Homo sapiens: one gene and its partner. The protein of the gene in region 2 interacts with the protein of the main gene of each other region in a pairwise test. Each region holds a gene or a part of one and is shown on either strand. Other genes may lie near its edges. The genes, in order: GSTO2 and KLHL10.

Region 1 (9,851 bases), on a different chromosome or scaffold from region 2:
GAGAAGACATATTGGTTCCCGGCTTGCTACGCTGACAACTTTTCATTTAAGAAGACAGAGAAAGTAACAGAGTAACTTCTACTACTTTGGAGCTAATTCTGATCAAGAAGGACAAATTGGATGGTAAAATAGAAGCAAGAAACACAACCATGTCATCTTAGAGCTCCTGGTAGGTAAGATGACTTCTGGGCATACACATGCATCCCTCATATAAAAAAAGCAGATTTCAAGATAGTTGAGAAAAATATATCCATAGCCTAAAAAAGGCCATAAGAGGGTTGCAAAATCTCAAAATCAAAATAAATTATTACTAATATATATTTGGTGCTTCATGTGTATTGACCCAGTTAATTCTTAAAATAGTCCAATAACTGGGCCGGGTGCGGTGGCTCATGCCTGTAATCCCAGCACTTTGGGAGGCCGAGGCGGGCGGATCACGAGGTCAGGAGATTGAGGCCATCCTGGCTAACGTGGTGAAACCCCGTCTCTACTAAAAACACAAAAATTAGCCGGGCGCGGTGGCAGGCGCCTGTAGTCCCAGCTACTCAGGAGGCTGAGGCAGGAGAACGGCGTGAACCCGGGAGGCGGAGCTTGCTGTGAGCCGAGACTGCGCCACTGCACTCCAGCCTGGGCGACAGAGCGAGACTCCGTCTCAAAAAAAAAAAAAAAAAAAAAAAAAAAAAAAAAAAAAAAAAAAAGTCCCATAACTGTTCTATTTTGATTCACTTTAAAAGATGAGTAAACTGAGACTAGCATAGTTAAGCACTTCTCAACTAGTAAGTGAAAGAGGGAGGACTAGGAACCCTGGAAGTTTGACTCCAGCGGCAACAATCTCAACCAGTATCTTAGTCTTTATCAGATGCCATGAACTGAATGATTGGCAAATGTTTTTACATATATTAAATATTTCAGGCTTTTCAGGCCATCTGGTCTCCACTATTTAGTTCTACACTTGTAGTGTAAAAACAGCCATCGATGATAAATAAACAAATGGGTGTGGCTGTATTTATGGACACACTGAATTTGAACTGCATATATGTATTTTAATAGCCTTTTTTTAAAAAAAAGTTTTAGATTCACAGCAAAATTGAGCAGAAAATACACATTTCCCATATACCCTGTGCCCCCGCACATGCACAGTCTCTTCCACTATCAATATTCCAATCAGAGAGGTACATTTATTACAATCAATGAACCCACATTGACATATTATCACCCAACATCCATAGTTAATATATTAGGGCTCACTCTTGGTGAATTTCATATAATTTTCACATATCACGTTGTGACTGGTTTTTCTTTTTCAACCCTTTAAAAATGTAAAAAATCATTCTTAGATATTGAGCTATAAAAAAACCAACAATTGGTTGGATTTAGCCCAATGGCCTTAATTTGCCCATCCATGGTCTCTGGATAATGGCCAAACTGGGAATTCCATTTGTAAATTAAAAGGTTCCTGGATCCACCTTTCTACTTTGCCAGAAGAGGATGATTTTCCAAGTTTTGTTTTTTCATTCCCACCTTTTAAAAGAAACTAACTCTGAGAGTTGGGAAATGTTCATGAAAAGTGTATCTGTATGTGGGAAATCAAGTTCTGAAATGCCAAGTTAATTTGGTAGAGTTAGAAGACAGGGATGGAAGCTGTTCTCCTCTAAAGGGAAACAATCTAGTGTCAAGGTTCTCAGAACAGGCCCTGGAGCCCAATGGGCTGACTTTTTGAGACCCAGCTTTGGCACTTAGGCAAGCTATCTAACCTTTTTGGATTTCACTTTCCTCACCTGCAAAATGAGAACACCAATAATACCTACTTTATGAATTGTGAGTATCGAATCAAATAGTCCAGGGCATCGTCAGTATAGTAAGAGCTCAGTATACGTCAAAGTTAATGACAAACGCTAGTGAGTAAGAACACATTTTAAATAGCAGAGTGCATTCCAATTTTGTATCCACAAAGATGAAGCACACTGTGATTCGGCTTTGCCAAGCATATTAGAATTAAAGTTCAACTCACAATACTTATTTCACCAGTTACCAGTTTAATGCCAATTGAATGGGCTGAATGCTGCAGACTCCATTTCAGTAATGTGGTTTTTAATCTTACCTCTGAACACTATACTTTCCCTAGAAAGATTTTAACCTTAAGCTTATCCCTACTTTCTTTTGAATACCCAACAGGTACTTCTTTGAAATCCTCTTTGCAAACTTTCCTTCTATGTTATTTCATGTTTATACCTTTATTATACTGACCCACTCAATCATGAAACAAATTGTAAGTAGACCATATTAAACCTACTCCAAATCCATTTTCAGCCACCTGAAATATGATCGGATCTGCTTTGAAAATGTTTGGATCTTCGGTCATGGGTGATTAACGACTTAAGCCTTCTAGGAAAATAATGCCACCAAAGAAATAGCTTACACTCTATTTACATGCATTTGTTTTGAGAAGAGGAACTGTGGTTTGCATTCGGCAACTTTTCAAAATTTTTTGTCACGCCATCTCTTGATAGTAGCAGAAACTGGACTGGAGTACATTCCTCTTAATAAGTTAGAAGCCTAATTTATATGAAAGATTATATTACTGGGTGTTCCCTTATTGTCCAATGAGTTCAAAAAGTGAGATACGTTAGGTAAAAGGTTCTATTCTCAAATGTGCTTATATTCAGGAAAAATTTCATATTCCCAATTGGGAAATCAGGGTCAAATGAGGCTATCTTTTTAACTACTTGATTCTGCTTCCCTATCCCTATTTCTCTCTACAACTTGAGGAATCAAAGAAAAAAAAAACTTTTTAAATAAATATTTGGTATAATAACATTTGAATAAGTAAAGGCAAATTGTCAAGATCCTGAAATCAGGAAAAGTCAAATAATTTGTAAAATCAAAACCACTGAGTTTGGAAAAGGAACATTATTAACTCATTAACTCCTGTTAAATCCCACGAATAATGGTGTGGTCAAAAAGGCAGATACAGGCCGGGCGCGGTGGCTCACGCCTGTAATCCCAGCGATTTGGGAGGCTGAGGCGGGCGGATCACGAGGTCAAGAGATCGAGACCATCCTGGCTAACACGGTGAAACCCCGTCTCTACTAAAAATACAAAAAATTAGCCGGGCGCGGTGGCGGGCGCCTGTAGTCCCAGCTACTTGGGAGGCTGAGGCAGGAGAATGGCGTGAACCCGGGAGGCGGAGCTTGCAGTGAGCCGAGATCGCGCCACTGCAGTCCGGCCTGGGCAGAACAGCGAGACTCCGTCTCAAAAAAAAAAAAAAAAGGTAGATACTATCCTCTGTCAGAGCTGTTGGATAAAGAGACTGGAAAAATAGCACATATAAATTCATCTCACGAACGGTCTTACTGTAAGAGTTCAGGCTAGATTCGAATCTCTTCAATATTTATTAGCTGGGTGACCTTGGGCAAATGACAACAACTTTCGGGTGTTCTTATATGTAATTCGTAGCTAATAGTACCAGTACATTATGTGGTTTGCGAAGGTTTCATTCAGAAACTGGATGAGAAATATTGAATGCTTAGCATGTGTCTGATACATAGTAAGTGTTCAACATTAGCTATTATTATTTTATGATTATTTCAATGTAGCAGGGAAGACTTTTCACAGTTTTCACAAAGACAGCACATTCCCAGAAACCAAATTCCCCTGCTTGCCAGTGCCTTAAACACGTAAACACGTGGGACTCGTGGTGTCCCACGCAAGGCTGAGAACTGGTTATCTGGGGTGGTCTCTGCCTGTTTCCAGCCAAATCAGAAAAAATAAGAACACCTTAATTAAAGGTATGCGGTTTAAAGACCTGTTCTTTATTCTTAGGCTGCACTTTGTTGGATGTGAAATTCTTTGATGCAACAGTGGCCAAGGCTAAATAGGATTTCTCGTAAAGTGTTAGGCAAAAGTTAAAGTTGGCAAGCCTACTGTGGGCCCCGAAATTCGTGAAAACCCCAGGAAACAGAATTGACCTCAAACCCCTCTTCCCTTCCAATACAACGCAGGCCGAACGGACCCACCGGTGGCGGTGAGAGAGGTCCCGCGAGAGACCTCCGGGAACTCGGGCAACCGGACCAGGATTGGCGGCGGCAGCAGCAGCAAGGAGGCGGGGCCTAGACGGGGCCTGCCCCTCGCACGTGATCCTACCCGCCAACTAGCCCCGGCGCCCAGAGCATCAGCCAATCCTCAAAGCTTTGGAAGTACCTGCCCAGCAGTGCGGCTGAGCCAATGGGCGGCCTCCTTACAGGCTCCTGGAGATCGGGATTCGCGGGTCCTGCCGGCGCCGGTGGCTGACGAAAGAGGAACCGGTAGTGGTTGGCTGTGGGACCCCGGCACCCGGCTCCGCACCTGAGGGGAAATCCGCTGGAAAGCACTAGGGCCAAGCGGCTCCGGTAGGCGCGCGGCAGCAGAGGTGGTCCGCCGCCGGCAGCCGGGGCTTTGGTGGCCGCTGAAGGTTTGCGGCAGGAGGCCTTTGTGAAGTCAGTCGGCTCCAGGTCGCCCTCCGGATGCGGTCCCCACACCGCCTGCGTCACCTGGGTTGAGGGGCTCATTTGAAATACAGACTTCGCTACCCACCCCAGCCTGCTGAATCGGAAATGCAGCGGTGAGCCATAGGTGATTATTATGCACCCTTAAATTTAAGAATTAGTCATTCGGAGGTTTCTCTCAATGGCGAACTTGAAAATAAGTTCAGGAAACCAGACAATTGGAGCGGACCGACAGCCCTGATTCCAATGGTAAGAGCAGTGCGCTGGGTGTGATCTTTCTGCCAGCACCTTAAGGCCTCACTTAACCTCGGGACCTTAGTTGCATCATCTATAGAATGAAATGATTGCTCTCCGACCTACCTTCTCGTGGTGGTGATGTGATAATAAAAATTGAATAGTGAGCAACCCAGTGGGCTATGGAAATGTGTGGAAGATGGCATTTCTATTTCTCAGTGGGGCTCTTACCTATTACTCATCAACCTTGTAGGCAGAATTGACTGATGCAGCCTACACAGTATTTAATTACATAAATGGGACACCACCTATGTGCCCAACATGGGATTTGATAGGAAGGATTTGAAGGGGTTAGAGACAGGGAGACCAAATAGGAGTCTGCCCAGCCACCCAGCTTTCGGGTAATGTGCGTCTGGTCTTCAGGGCCAACAATAGAGAGAATGTGAAATTAAGTTGATGATGGAAATGAAAGAAGGAGGAATTGAAAGCTTCTCAACTAAGAAACCAGAAGACAAGCAACAAGAGAGCATCTCATGAAATCACACAACAGGGTAACTGAGTGGGTATTTCCTGTGAGCAGTTATAAAGTTAGATTGTGGACGGGTACGGTGGCTCATGCCACTTTGGGAGGCCGAGGCGCGCCGATCACCTGAGGTCGGGAGTTGGAGACCAGCCTGACCAACATGGAGAAACCCCTTCTCTACTGATAATACAAAAAAATTAGCCAGGCGTGGTGACGCATGCCTGTAATCCCAGCTACTCAGGAGGCTGAGGCAGGAGAATCGCTTGAACTCAGGAGGCGGAGGTTGCGGTGAGCTGAGATCAGGCCATTGCACTCCAGCCTGGTCAACAAGAGTGAAACTCCGTCTCAAAAAAAAAAAAAAGATTCAAGTCCAGATTTTGCTAAAGATGATAATTTGGGGGTTTTCAGCATGGACTATGATAGAACCCTCAGAGTCGTTTCAGCATCCTGAGACAGGAAATGCATTTTCATTTCTGTAGGGGGGCGTTAAGGAGACCCCCACCGTTTGGCTGTTGATGTCAAATCAGTCAGAGAAGATGATCCCATGCAACCTGAACCTTGGTAAAATAAAAGCATGCTATTATTCATATTAGTGAAGGAAAATATCAGACATAGCTTTATTGCTGACTCCTGCCCCCTTCAGAGCCCATAGTCACAGGCCTCAGGGCTGTTCTGTAAGTAGAGCTCTAGGAAACCTTGCCAGTCTTTCTCACTAGTAAGCAGGGCTGAGACTGTGGGATCTTCCTTCATGGCTGCCATCCACAGTTTCAGTTTTGGAGTGTGGTCTACACACCTGTGGGAAGAGGAAAAAATGAAAGGTGTGAGCTAGGTCAACTAGGATGACATCACAGAGTCTCCCATATGTAATTATTACTCTACAGTTTCACTTTTTTCCCTTAAATATTTCATTAAAAATATTTAAAAATGCCTGTAATAGAATATTCAATTTGAAAGACACTATAGAGGTCCCTTTTTTACACAAAAGGAATGAGACTAGAGTGAAGCAATTTGTTCAGTTAATGTGAGAACTTGCCCAAAGAGAGAAACTGACAATTTATTAAAATAAGAACAGGGAATACAATCAGGAATGTTCTATGTTAATTATTCTACACCCAGATTATGACCAAAAGTAACCCTGAATAGCTCTATCGTCCAAGAAGCCGGAGTAAGGCAAGGTGGCTGCCAAACTCAAAACAGAATTTGGAAAATAATGTGGAAATCTTACGGTAAATGGGAGGTAACACTGGTCGTACAATCCCGCAACAACATCCTTACAAAAATTTACAACCTTATGGAATTTTTTTTTTTTTTTTGATGAAGTGTCTTGCTCTTGCCCAGGCTGGAGTTCAGTGACATGATCTCAGCTCACTGCAACTGCCTCCCGGGTTCAAGTGATTCTCCTGCCTCAGCCTCCCGAGTAGCTGAGATTACAGGTGTGTACCACCATGCCCAGCTAATTTTTGTATTTTTAGTAGAGATGGGGTTTCACCACATTGGCCAGGCTGGTCTCTAACTCCTGACCTCAGATGATCCACCCGTCTCGGCCTCCCGAAGTGCTGGGCTTACAGGCGTAAGCTACCATATCCTTCCCCTTATGGGTTTTTAATCAGGAAGGAAGGAATAAATTTTAAAGCACTTTACTACATGTCTCAGAAATCCCCTGCCCCATTGCAGTGATGGAGAGTAGTTAGTGTAGGTATATGACATGCCTGGGATAGTCCAAGATTCCCCTGTCTGCTTGTTCTCATTCAGACCAGTTGTATTAAATATTTCAACTTCTGTTATAAAGAAAGGTCAATATATACTATTCCACCTGTCATCCTAAATTATGCACAAAATATTCAAATATCTTACTCATTTAACTTCATTGCTTCCAGCCGTTCAAACCAGGGCCAGATGAGGTAATCAATCATAGAGATAGAATTGCCACCAAAGAAGGTCGTCTTCTTATTAGTCAGAACCTGAACATTAAACAGCATAAAAGTATTTCTTACTTGTGCATGTAGTAAGACTCACTAGAAATGCTGAAGGGAAATAAGTAGAGCAGGTGAGAGAAGCAGTTTTTACTCCGATGTATCCAAGTTGGGTTTTTTTCTGATCAAAAAGCTTAATTAAGCTTTAGAATCTGTTGGTCTGGGATGAAGTAAAACAATCAACAACATAAACTGGAAAATTGAAAAATAAAACAAGTCACAGAGTACAACATATTTGTAATACAAAGGACTGGTATTCAGAATATAGAAAGGATTCCTGGGAATCAGTAAGAAAAATAGCAAACGACCCATTGGAAAAATGAGCAAGACTTGATCTTCAAGAAAGATGATGTCCAAATGGCCAATTATCATTTGGAAAGGTGTTCAACTGCATTAGTCATTAGGGAAATGCAAATTAAAACCAAAATGCAATAACACTATACACCCAAGAGAATGCCTACAATGAACAAAATGAAGTTGGCAAGGGTATGGAACCACTGTCGTAGAGGTGTAAATTGGTACAACCATGTTTTAAGAGTATGCATACTCATCACCCAGCAATTGTACTTGGCAATGTAACACATGTTCACCAAAAGATATGTTATGTGAATGTTCACTGCAGCACTATTTGTAATAGCCCAAATGTGAAAACGTTTACTATCAAGAGTAGAATGGGTAAAGTGTAATATACTATACTTTGGAACACTGTATAAAGAACAGGAAAGAACTACACACAGCAGAGATGAACCCACAAACCTAATATTGAATGAAAGCAGGCAGACCCAAAAGATGAACATTATATGAGTCCATTTGTATAAAGTACAAAAAAGCCCAAACTAGTATTTTGTTAGTTGATATGGGTGCTGGTTCCATGGCTGTGTTCGCTTTGTGAAAACGTGTTGTGTTTTTATGCTTTGGGTACTTCTCTGCATTAAAAATTAAAAATATTAACTTTTCAATATAAAATGCACAGTCTGCAGCTTATGATGGTTCAATTTAAATTCTTTTCAACTTTACGACGGTGCAAAAGCAAGCATTCAGTAAAAACTCTACTTTGAACTTTGAATTTTGCTCTTTTCCTGGGCTATCGATTTGCAGTATGATAACTCTTGATGCTGGGCAGCCATACCATCAAGAGAGTAAACAACCAATGCTCTAAAGTGTGCTGTGTTGCCAGCATCTTTTGGATGCAGGTATTCGATAAATTATATGAGATATTCAACACTTTATAAATATTTTATGTTTGATGGTTTTATGTTTGATGATTTTGCCTAATTGCAGGCTAATGGAAGTTTTCTGAGCACATTTAAAGCAGGCTAGGCTAAGCTATGATGCTCTGTAGGTTGGGTTTATTAAATGCATTTTCCACTTATGATATTTTCAGCTTACGGTGGGTTTATTGGATGTAACCCCATTGTAAGTGCAAAAGCATTTGTACTTAAAATATACTGGAAATAGACTGGATTAACTGCTAAACAGATGACAATCATTTGAAAACAAAACACAAATTGTATGTTTCTGAAATTTTAAGAAGGCGAATTGGTTACAGGGTTTGCCAAAGGGGGTGATTGAGAATATTATCTGGCTATTTAAACCACCAAACTAATTTGCCCTTTATAAATAACCTCCATAGTTTTTTTTCAATGCATAATATGCATTTTAGATTGCTTATATCTACCTACTGTGTTCTGTCTACTACTAAACTAATTATCTGAAGAATATGGACTGCATCTTACTTTCCAGCTCCCACACTGTTCAGCAGAAAAATATAAAAGTACCAACACTGATTCAAGAAGAAATATAAAACCAAAAAACCAATTACCATTAAAGAAATCAAACTAGTAATGAAAAATCTACCCCTGTTAAAGACACCAGGCTCAAATGTTTTAAAGAAACCGCTAGTCCCTACCAAATGGTTTCAGAGATTAGAAAAACAGGTTAGTTACCCAACTCATTTTATGAGGTCAGAATATCCTTGAAACCAAAAGCCAATAATGATACTATAAGAGTAGAAAATTTATAGGCCAATCTCATTTATGAACACACATACAAAAATCATTCATTAGCTAATTCTACAGTACATATAAAAATCCATAGAGAACAAGTAGGTTTTATCTTAGGAATGCTAGGATGGTTAAACATTAAAAAAAAAAAAATTTGTCAATAGCACCATATTCACCAGATTAAGAGGAAAAAATTCTATGAACATTTCAATAGATGTAACAGATGCAGAAAAACCATTCAATAAAATTCAACATTTATGACTTTTTTAAAAATTAGCAAACTAGTAATAGAAGAGAACTTTATAATGAAAAAAAGGTTTCTGAAAAACCTACAGCAAACATCATGCTTACTGATAAAATGTTAAAATGCATTCCCATGAAAGACAGGAACTATGTCTTCTGTCAGTAAAAACTTCAGGCTTAGCATGAATGAAATATTTCAAGGCCAAGAGACAGACTCCAAGGCCCAAATGTCAGCTGTCCCCAAAAGAAGGTAAAATACATCTGGGCTTCCCTCAAGTGTCTGTACTGTTCATTGCAAACTTTTTCTGGTGGGAAATATTTAGTATGTAATACTAAGTGGACACAGGAAAAAAAGCAGGACACAGAATGATATCTATGCTCTGATTAGAGC
Region 2 (9,460 bases):
AGCAACCCCTGACGATACCCATGATGTTAAACTGGTCTGCAGCAGCAAGCAGTTTCTCCACATTGTCCGGTGTGATAGGCACGGTCCGGGTGTATGCATACTCAATGATTAGCTTCATCATGTCGGGAGAAATGCCAGGGATGTTGTATACCTTCTTTTCAGTGTTGTTCCAGCCACTTGTAAACAAAGCTCTGGAAAAAAGAAAGAAACTAGCAGCCACGGAAACATTTCTCTCCTGTTAGGTGAGTACATTGGAAATGGTCTGAGAAAGTGGGGTGCAGGCATGTGCTATATACAGTGGACAAGAAGAACACCTTTCCAAGAACTCTGACTTTGGTCACTCTTACCTTGTGGATGGAGAAATTAAGATCTAGAACTGAGAGTAAGACCCAGGTCTCTTGGGCCAGGCGTGGTGGCTCACGCCTATAATCTCAGCACTTTGGGAGGCCGAAGCGGGTGGATCATGAGGTCAGGAGTTCAAGACCAGCCTGGCCAACGTGGTGAAACCCCGTCTCTACTAAAAATACAAAAATTAGCTGGGCATGGTGGCACATGCCTGTAGTCCCAGCTACTTGGGAGGCTGAGGCAGGAGAATCGCTTAAACCTGGGAGGCGGAGGTTGCAGTGAGCCAAGATCATGACACTACACTCCAGCCTGGGGGACACAGCGAGACTCTGTCTGAAAAAATAAAAATAAAATGGCCACTCACTGCTTTTTATCTTCCTTTTCTTATTTTCCCAGGCATTTATGATGATTTGATATGCATTTTACTCATTTAATGCCTGTTTCCCCATCCAGGGGGTAAACTTCATGAGAACAGGAATGCTTCTCTTTTTATTAATTGTTTTCTTTTCTTTTTTTCTTTTTTTTTTTGGAAACAGGGTCTTGCTCTGTCACCCAGGGTAGAGTGCAATGGCATGATCTTGGCTCACTGCAACCTCCAACTCCAGAGTGCAAGCAATTTTCCTGCCTCAGCCTCTTGAGTAGCTGGGATTATAGGTGTGTGCCACCACGCTCAACTGATTTTTGTATTTTTTAGTAGAGATGCGATTTCACCATGTTGGCCAGGCTGGTTTCATCATATTGGTCAGGCTTGTCTCGCACTCCTGACCTCAGGTGATCTGCCTGCCTCGGCCTCCCAAAGTGCTGGGATTACACGGGTGAGCCACCATGCCCGGCTTTTGCTTCCTTTTTTTAAGAAGTTTAAGGAAATGTGGTCTTAGAAATCAAATTCTTCCTCTAGAGCAGGGGTCTGCAAACCTATGGACTCTGTCCAAATTTGGCCCACCTCTTGTTTTCATGCTGCCCACAAATTAAGAATGATTTTTACATTTTAAATGGCTGGAGGAAAAAATCTTTTTTTTTTTTTTGAGATGGAGTCTCGCTCTGTCACCCAGGCTGGAGTGCAGTGGCTTGATCTTGGCTCAGTGCAACCTCTGCCTCCCAGGTTCAAGCAATTCTCTGCCTCAGCCTCCCGAGTAGCTGGGATTATAGGTGCCCACCACCATGCCCGGCTTTTTGTATTTATGCCCGGTTTTTTGTATTTTTAGTAGAAATGGGATTTCACCATCTTGGCCAGGCTGGTCTTGAATTCCTGATCTCATGATCCACCCACCTCAGCCTCCCAAATTATTGGGATTCCAGGCGTGAGCCACTGCGCCCCGCTGGTTGGGGGAAAAAATCAAAAGAATATTCTGTGACACCTGAAAATTATAATACATTTAAATTTCAGTGTCCATAAATAATCTTATTGGAATACAGCCACACCCATTCATTTAGTATTGTCTAAGGCTGCTTTTGCAGTATAAAAACAGAGTAGTTGCAACAGACTGTGTGGCCTGCAAAAACCTAAAACAATTACTATTTGGTCTATTTCTGGACTCAGCTGAGCGCGTTGGCTCACGCCTGTAATCCCAGCACTCTGGGAGGCTGAGGCAGGCGGATCACCTGAAGTCAGGAGTTCAAGACCAGCCTGGCCAACATAGTGAAACCTGTAACCCCAGCTACTCGGGAGGCTGAGGCAGGAGAATTGCTTGAACTTGGGAGGCAGAGGTTGCAGTGAGCAGAGATCATGCCATTGCATTCCAGCCTGGGTGACAAGAACAAAACTCCATTTCAAAAAAAAAAAGAAAAATTAGCCAGATGTGGTGGCACACAGCTGTAATCCCAGATATTCGGGAGGCTGAGGCAGGAGAATCGCTTGAACCTGAGAGGTGGAGGTTGCAGTGAGCTGAGATTGTGCCACTGCACTCCAGCCTGGGTGACAGAGCAAGACTCCATCTCAAAAAAATAAAAATAAAAAATAAATTGTGGACTCTGCTCTGTGGTCTACCTGAATGAGAAGTTTTAGCAACAGGTAGGACACATTGATCATATCTTCATTGGAATTGATTACTCAAACATTTTCAGCTCATGAACAAAATAGCCCTTCTACCTCCTGGGTTACAATGGTTTTAGCCCAAACTCCCTTTTTCTTCTGATATTTCCTGGGTATTTCCCCCTCATCTCCCTTCCCATCCCCTTAATCCTTGTTAATTTATCACCCTGTTTGAAATGGTCTCTATTGGGATAGGGGTACAGGGGGGTCCCTGAAGTGGCATTGTCATCTGAAATCCAGTAGGGATGTCCAACCTTCCCAAAGGTTGGTTTGGGTGAGAATCAAAGATTAAAGCACCTGGCCCACCAATAGTTGGTTGAAATCCAGTTGAAAAATCAGACCTTAAAGGCTGGGTGCAGTGGCTCATGCCTGTAATCCCAGCACTTTGGGAGACCAAGGTGGGTGGATCACGAAGTCAGGTGTTCGAGACCAGACTGACCAACATGGTGAAACCCCGTCTCTACTAAAAACACAAAAATTAGCTGGGCATGGTGGCGGGAGCCTGTAATTCCAGCTACTCGGGAGGCTGAGACAGAAGAATCGCTTGAGCCTGGGAGGCAGCGGTTGCAGTGAGCCGAGATCACGCCACTGCATTCCAGCCTGGGGGACAAAGCGAGACTCCATCTTAAAAAAAGAAAAATTGTATCTTGCCAGGCGCGGTGGCTAATGCCTGTAATCCTAGCACTTTGGGAGGTCAAGACGGGCAGATCACCTGAGGTCAGGAGTTTGAGACCAGCCTGAGCGACATGGCAAAACCCTGTCTCTACTAAAAATACAAAAATTAGCCGGGCGTGGTGTCAGGCGCCTGTAATCCCAGCTACTTGAGAGGCTGAGGTGGGAGAATGGATTGAACTGGGGAGGCGGAGTTTGCAGTGAGCCGAGATGGCGCCATTGCACTCCAGCCTGGGTAACAGAATGAGACTCATCTCAAAAAAAAAAGACAAAAATCAGATCTCTCAAGAGCAAAAGGAAAAAAAAAAACAAAACAAACAAAAAAAAAAAAGAGAGAAAAAAGGCCCTGACCCTAGTCATGCCTCTTCAGAAGGCAAAGGAGCCAGGCAGGAGCTCCTGCCTGGACCAGAGTTGGCCAGGCACAGTGGTAATCCCAGCACTTTGGGAGACTGAGGCAGGAGGATCGCTTTGGGCCAGGAGTTCAAGACCAGCCTGGGCAACATAGCGAGACTCCCTCTCTACAGAACATTTCAAAAGTAGCCGGACGTAGCAGCATGTGCCTGTAGACCTAGCTACTTGGGAGGCTGGAGTAGGTGGATTGTTTGAGCCCAGCAGTTGAAGGCTGCAGTGAGCTATGATTGCATCACTACACTCCAGCCTGGGTGAAAGAATGAGAGCTTATCTCTAAAAAAAAAATTTTTTTTTAATTTTTAAGGAGCCCAGAGCTTTGACAGTGTCCCTAAAGTTAAGGTGATGGGGTGGGAAACAGAAAATGGATCAAAGTGTCTCAAAATGAGCCCAATTACCCCTTTGGCTGAATTTGGCAACCCTGTTATACCTAAAGTAGGAACTGCAGCTACAGAGGATGTTCTTATGGGCACTGAACTCAAAGCCATTGACCTTGATGACCACGTCGCAGAGCTTGCCCTCTAGTCTAAGCTCGTTGAAGATCTCACAGGCCATCGCACTCATCTTCCTCTCCATGTGAGGCTGGTGGAAACGTGTGGAGGCCGCCGCGCTCTCCATCTCCATGGCACCCTGGGACAGCGGAGAGAGGCTGCTTTCCTAGGGTGTCGGGGAGGGTTGTGGGGGGCCCCTTTAGCCAGCTGTCGCTCCTTTTCCCTACTACATCTTTTGTATAGGGTCTATCAGGCAACCCAAGTTCCAGAATCCTGGCCCTGCAGTGAGATCACACAGGATTGTGCTCTCAGGTTCTGGAACTGCCTCCTGGACTTGTCCTCTTCCTTCTCCCCTCCTTACCACCCCACTTAGGCTGAAAACCACCTCACACCTCCTTCTGTGTCCTTGAACCCAAAACAGAACCATGACCACTAGCACCATCTGAGTGTTTATTGATTCCAGCTCCTGTTACTCACCTGATACAGGTCTCTATCCCTGGAGCATTCATCTACCTTCCACAGCCCAACACTTGGCTCCCTAGACACCGAACTCAAGGAAATCCAAGTCAATTGAGGCTGAAGGGAGAAGTAAAACTGATTAAATTTCTTTCTTAGGCCGGGCGCAGTGGCTCACACCTGTAATCCCAGCACGAGGTGGATGGATCACAAGGTCAAGAGATCAAGGCCATCCTGGCCAACATGGTGAAACCTCGTCTCTACTAAAAATACAAAAATTAGCTGGGCGTGGTGGCACATGCCTGTAGTCCCAGCTACTTGGGAGGCTGAGGCAGGAGAATCGCTTCAACCCAGGAGATGGAGGTTGTAGTGAGCCGAGATCGCTCCACTGCACTCCAGCCTGGCGACAGAGTGAGACTCCATCTCAAAAAAAAAATCTTTCTTTTTCTAGGGACGGGTCTCGCTCTCTCACCCAGGCTGGAGTGCAGTGGTGTGATCATAACTCACTACAGCCTCGACCTCCTGGGCTTAAGTGATCCTCCCACCTCAGCCTCCTGAATAGCTGGGATTACAAGTGCTCCGCACCGTGCCCAGCCAACGCTGATTACATTTCAGAAAGCTGTCCCGGGTCTCCCAGCCCGCTGGATGGGTTAGTCACTCAGTTTCTTCTGGAATGAGGAATGGCCTAGTTAACAGAGCCCTTTCTGGGTGATTAACAGAATTCAGTTTATGGCTCCTTCATCTCTCCTCCCATCCAGCCGTGTGGTTTTTCTGTTTTTGTTTCTGAGACAGGGTGTCATCTGTCACCCAGGGTGGAGTGCAGTGGTATGATCTCGGCCTACTGGAGCCTGGATCTCCCGGGCTCAAGTGATCCTCGTGCCTCAGCCTCCCGAGTAGCTGGGACTACAACAGGTGCGTGTCACCATGCCCGGCTAATTTTTGTATTTTTTGTAGAGACAGGGTTTCGTCATATTGCCCAGGCTGGTCTCGAACTCTTCGGCTCAAGCGATCATCCTGCCTCGGCCTCCCAAAGTCCTGGGATTACAGGTATGGGCCACCGCGCCCAGCCCCAGTCATGTTTTTGTCACAAACTTTCAGCCTGGAAATGACCACGTTTGGCAAGGCTTTTCCTCCACAAAGAGTGGCAGAACCCTACCTACCCACGTAACCCCAACACCTTGGGACCTTCACCCTGCTCTTCATAATAAATAGAACCCTCCTCCAGTTTGCCTAGCGCAACCGGCAAGCCCACCCGGATCGCGGCCATCTCCGGGACCGCTCGATTCTCGGCCCCACCCCCGCCCCGCCCCCGGCCCCACCAACCCCCGCCCGGGCTCCAGGCGGGAGGCGACGCCTGCGCAGTGCGGTCGCGGGGCTGTCGTTGTCCCGCGAGCCGCCGACCAGGCCTCGAACGGGATGGCAGAGGAGGTGAGGAGGGAGGAAGCGTCCGGAGTGGGGCGGGCCCGGACTCCGACCCCCGGGGCGCTTCGAGCCCCCCAGCTGGTCACCGAGGCACCGCCGCTTCACCCAGGCCAGTAGCCGCCCCCTCGCGCACCCCGGCCCCGCCTCACACGCGCGCCCGAGCGAGCCCCGGGCTCCCCTCGGGCCCAGCGTGGCGCAGGGGTCAGTGGTTCTCTCGGGTCTCGGGACAGGTGAGCACCCTGATGAAGGCCACGGTCCTGATGCGGCAGCCTGGGCGGGTGCAGGAGATCGTGGGCGCCCTCCGCAAGGGCGGCGGAGACCGGTTACAGGTACCTCTGGGGCGTGCGGGGGCCGGCCGGGCTGGGGGCGGCTGGAGAGGCTTCCTGCCCATTGGGCCTTCCCGCTTTGCTCTGCCGCGGACCCCTCCTAGCTCTCTGCCCCAAGAAATGGCCGGGAGCTTGAAGGAGAGCGGGTTGGTTCGCCTGTCCTAAAACCCAAATTTCAGATTTCTCAATATGGTCATGCTGCTTCCTCTAATTGGACAGAAGGCGCCCACACCAGTACCTAGGGCCTTATCCTCCCCAAGCCAGCGGCTCCCCAGTAAGTTGAAGATGTCCAGATGGGCCGTAATGGTAGAGATCTCTTAGGAGGGACCTGATATTGAAGGAGTCAGAGGGGTCCTGAGTATTCACCCTTGCCCCCACACTAGGAGACTGCGTTTTCCTCAGGGTTAACGGGTACTAATTAGGATCACTTCCCCTCTATCCCTCTGTGTCACTCGGTAACTCCCCTAGGGCTTTGCCTACATCCTGGCCACTGAGCTGTATTGATTTCCATAATCATCCCCCAGGCTGAGGCAGGGCCACACTAGAATTCTGGTGCCTATTTAGGCATCATCTCTCTTTTGCCTTATAGGTGATTTCTGATTTTGACATGACCTTGAGCAGGTTTGCATATAATGGAAAGCGATGCCCTTCTTCTTACAGTAAGTCACATTCTAGCTTCCCTTGTTGAGCTTGACAAGACGATGGGTTCTAAGGGACAAGTAAAAGGAGTTTTCTCTTTTTCCAGATATTCTGGATAATAGCAAGATCATCAGTGAGGAGTGTCGGAAAGAGGTGGGTTGCTCCCGTCCTTTGCTCAGAAATGGTTGTCATTTGCTACTTCAAATGGTTCCTGATTGGAACCAAAGATTCCAGTATAGAGACCTTAGAAAATTAATTTTTAAAAACTTGTTGTTTTGCTAAGGAGGGTCTAGTTTTAATACATTAAGACAGCTTTTCCTTACTGGCCAGGACATATGATGATTAATGGTTGGAACTGGACATTATATTTACTGTTGGCTATAGAGTTTACAAGAGATTTGAACATTCTGGAGGTTCAGCAACTTACCCAGGGTCATACAGCCAAATGGCAGAGCTTGTTTGTTTGTTTGTTTTGAGACAGGGTCTCACTCTATCACCCAGGCTGGAGTGCAATGGCTTGATCTTTGTTCACTGCAGCCTTGACCTCCTAGGCTCAAGTGATCCTCCTGCCTCAGCCCTACTGAGTAGCTGGAACTACAAGCATGTAACATTACACCTAGCTAATTTTAAAAATTTTTTGTAGAGATGGGGTCTCACTATGTTGCCTAGGTTGGTCTTGAACTCCTGAGCTCAAGCAATCCTCCTTCCTCAGCCTCCCCAAAGTGCTGGGCTTATAGGCATGAGCTACCACACCTGGCCTTTTTAAAAGAAAATTTATATTCTTCTGTTGGGTTCTAGTGTGTGTGTGTGTGTGTGTGTGTGTGTGTGTATTTTTTTTTTTGAGACAGAGTCTTGCTCTATGGCCCAGGCTGGAGTGGCATAATCTCAGCTCACTGCAACCTCGGTTCAAGCAATTCTCATGCCTCAGCCTCTCGAGTAGCTGGGATTACCAGCATGCATCACCATGCCCGGCTAATTTTTGTATTTTTAGTAGAGACGAGGTTTCTCCATGTTGGTCAGGCTGATCTCGAACTCCCAACCTCAGGTGATCCGCCCGCCTTGGCCTCCCAAAGTGCTGAGATTACAGGCATGAGCCATCTTGCCCAGCCTGATTTTTAGAGAAAGGTTCTCACTCCAAAAAAACACACAGATTGAGAATCTTAATACATTTCAGAAGTTTTCTGCCTTTGTTACTATGTCATCTTTCATTTAATCTTCTTTTGAACAGATGGACAGGGATTCCATTTGATCTTGTAATGTTCCTGAGAATCATGCATGTATTAAAATTCTTTACTTGGTCAATTCTCATTTTTACTAGGCACTGTTACGGACTGGCTCTGTGTAACACATGATCCCTGGAACAGCCCCTTTAGAGTGTCAAAGTCTTGGCACATAGAAGGAAACCTTAGAGGAAACACACATAGATGCTGTGCATTCACATGATATTGACACTTTTGACGGAATTGTCCACCAACATGCTGTGTCCCAAAGTACAGTCTTCTAGTTATATTTCATTTTTTTTGCCATATCTGTATATCACCTTTACTAAATCTTTCTCTAAATTGGCCTGCTTTTAAAAATTGTAATTAACTTATAAAGAAACAGGCCGGGTGTGGTGGTTCACGCCTGTAATCCCAGCATTTCTGGGAGGCTGAGGCGGGCAGATCGGTTGAGGTCAGGAGATCGAGACCAGCCTGGACAACATGGCAAAACCCTGTCTCTACTAAAAATACAAAAAATTAGCTGGGCGTAGTGGTGCCTGCCTGTAATCCCAGCTACTCGGGAGGCTGAGGCAGAAGAATTGCTCGAACCCGGGAGGCGGAGGTTGCAGTGAGCCGAGATTGCGCCACTGCACTCCAGCCTGGGCAACAGAGTGAGACTTGTCTCAAAAAAAAAAAAAATTGTACATGAAAATGAATCCAAAACTTCTGAGTTGAAAAGCGCTTCTCCATGAATTCCCTAAAGTTTTCTTACCTATCACCTGAGAAAGTGGACCACATTCTGGGAAACACAGCATTAAGTAAGTTCTTACTGGTTAAGCCCTGAAAATTGAGCTAATTAATAACAGCAAAAAAATCTTAGTACCCTTCTTCTCTGATAGTAAAATCTCATATTGCTGACTTTTAGACCTCACTCTCAGGGTGAGTACAAAGGAATGACCAGCTCTGTGGATCCAGGTGCTCCCTGGACTTCACCAAATGGGTAAAAATGTGAGTGTATTGAGCGATTATGTTGGAAGATAATATGAGAAGAGAAACTTAGGTCTTATAAATGACATGTCCCCAAAGGAAAACTTGAAGAAAATTTCATGTAACACTCTCTTAGATGAAGTTGCATCTTCTTTTTATTTGAGACACAGTTTTACTCTGTGGCCCAGGCTGGAGTGCAGTGGTGTGATCTCGTCTTGGCTCACTGCAACCTCCGCCTCCTGGGTTCAAACGATTCTCATTTTTCAGCCTCCTGAGTAGCTGGGATTAAAGGCGCATGCCACTACACCGGCTAATTTTTGTATTTTTTAGTAGAGACAGGGTTTCGCCATGTTGGCCAGGCTGGACTCGAACTCCTGACCTCAAGTGATCCACCTGCCTCAGCCTCCTAAAGCACTGGGATTGCAGGTGTGAGCCACCGCCCCTGGCCATGAAGTTGCCTCTTCTAGGTGACTTTTTTCT

The links.
Region 1: the proteins of KLHL10 (region 2) and GSTO2 interact in binary tests that used the Homo sapiens proteins (3 or more experiments, as listed by UniProt).

Annotation. Positions count from the first base shown.
Region 1 is NC_000010.11:104,263,435-104,273,285, reverse strand, and holds the start of GSTO2 (glutathione S-transferase omega-2), read right to left. Parts: upstream 4,103-9,851; 5' UTR 4,017-4,102; intron 1-4,016. Other genes in the region: GSTO1 (glutathione S-transferase omega-1), read right to left, coding at 5,881-6,034, 7,096-7,202. UniProt on the Homo sapiens protein: Exhibits glutathione-dependent thiol transferase activity. Has high dehydroascorbate reductase activity and may contribute to the recycling of ascorbic acid. Participates in the biotransformation of inorganic arsenic and reduces monomethylarsonic acid (MMA).
Region 2 is NC_000017.11:41,832,554-41,842,013, reverse strand, and holds the start of KLHL10 (kelch-like protein 10), read right to left. Parts: upstream 4,190-9,460; 5' UTR 4,082-4,189; coding exon 3,888-4,081; intron 192-3,887; coding exon 1-191. Other genes in the region: NT5C3B (7-methylguanosine phosphate-specific 5'-nucleotidase), read left to right, coding at 5,821-5,832, 6,057-6,155, 6,742-6,811, 6,898-6,944. UniProt on the Homo sapiens protein: May be a substrate-specific adapter of a CUL3-based E3 ubiquitin-protein ligase complex which mediates the ubiquitination and subsequent proteasomal degradation of target proteins during spermatogenesis.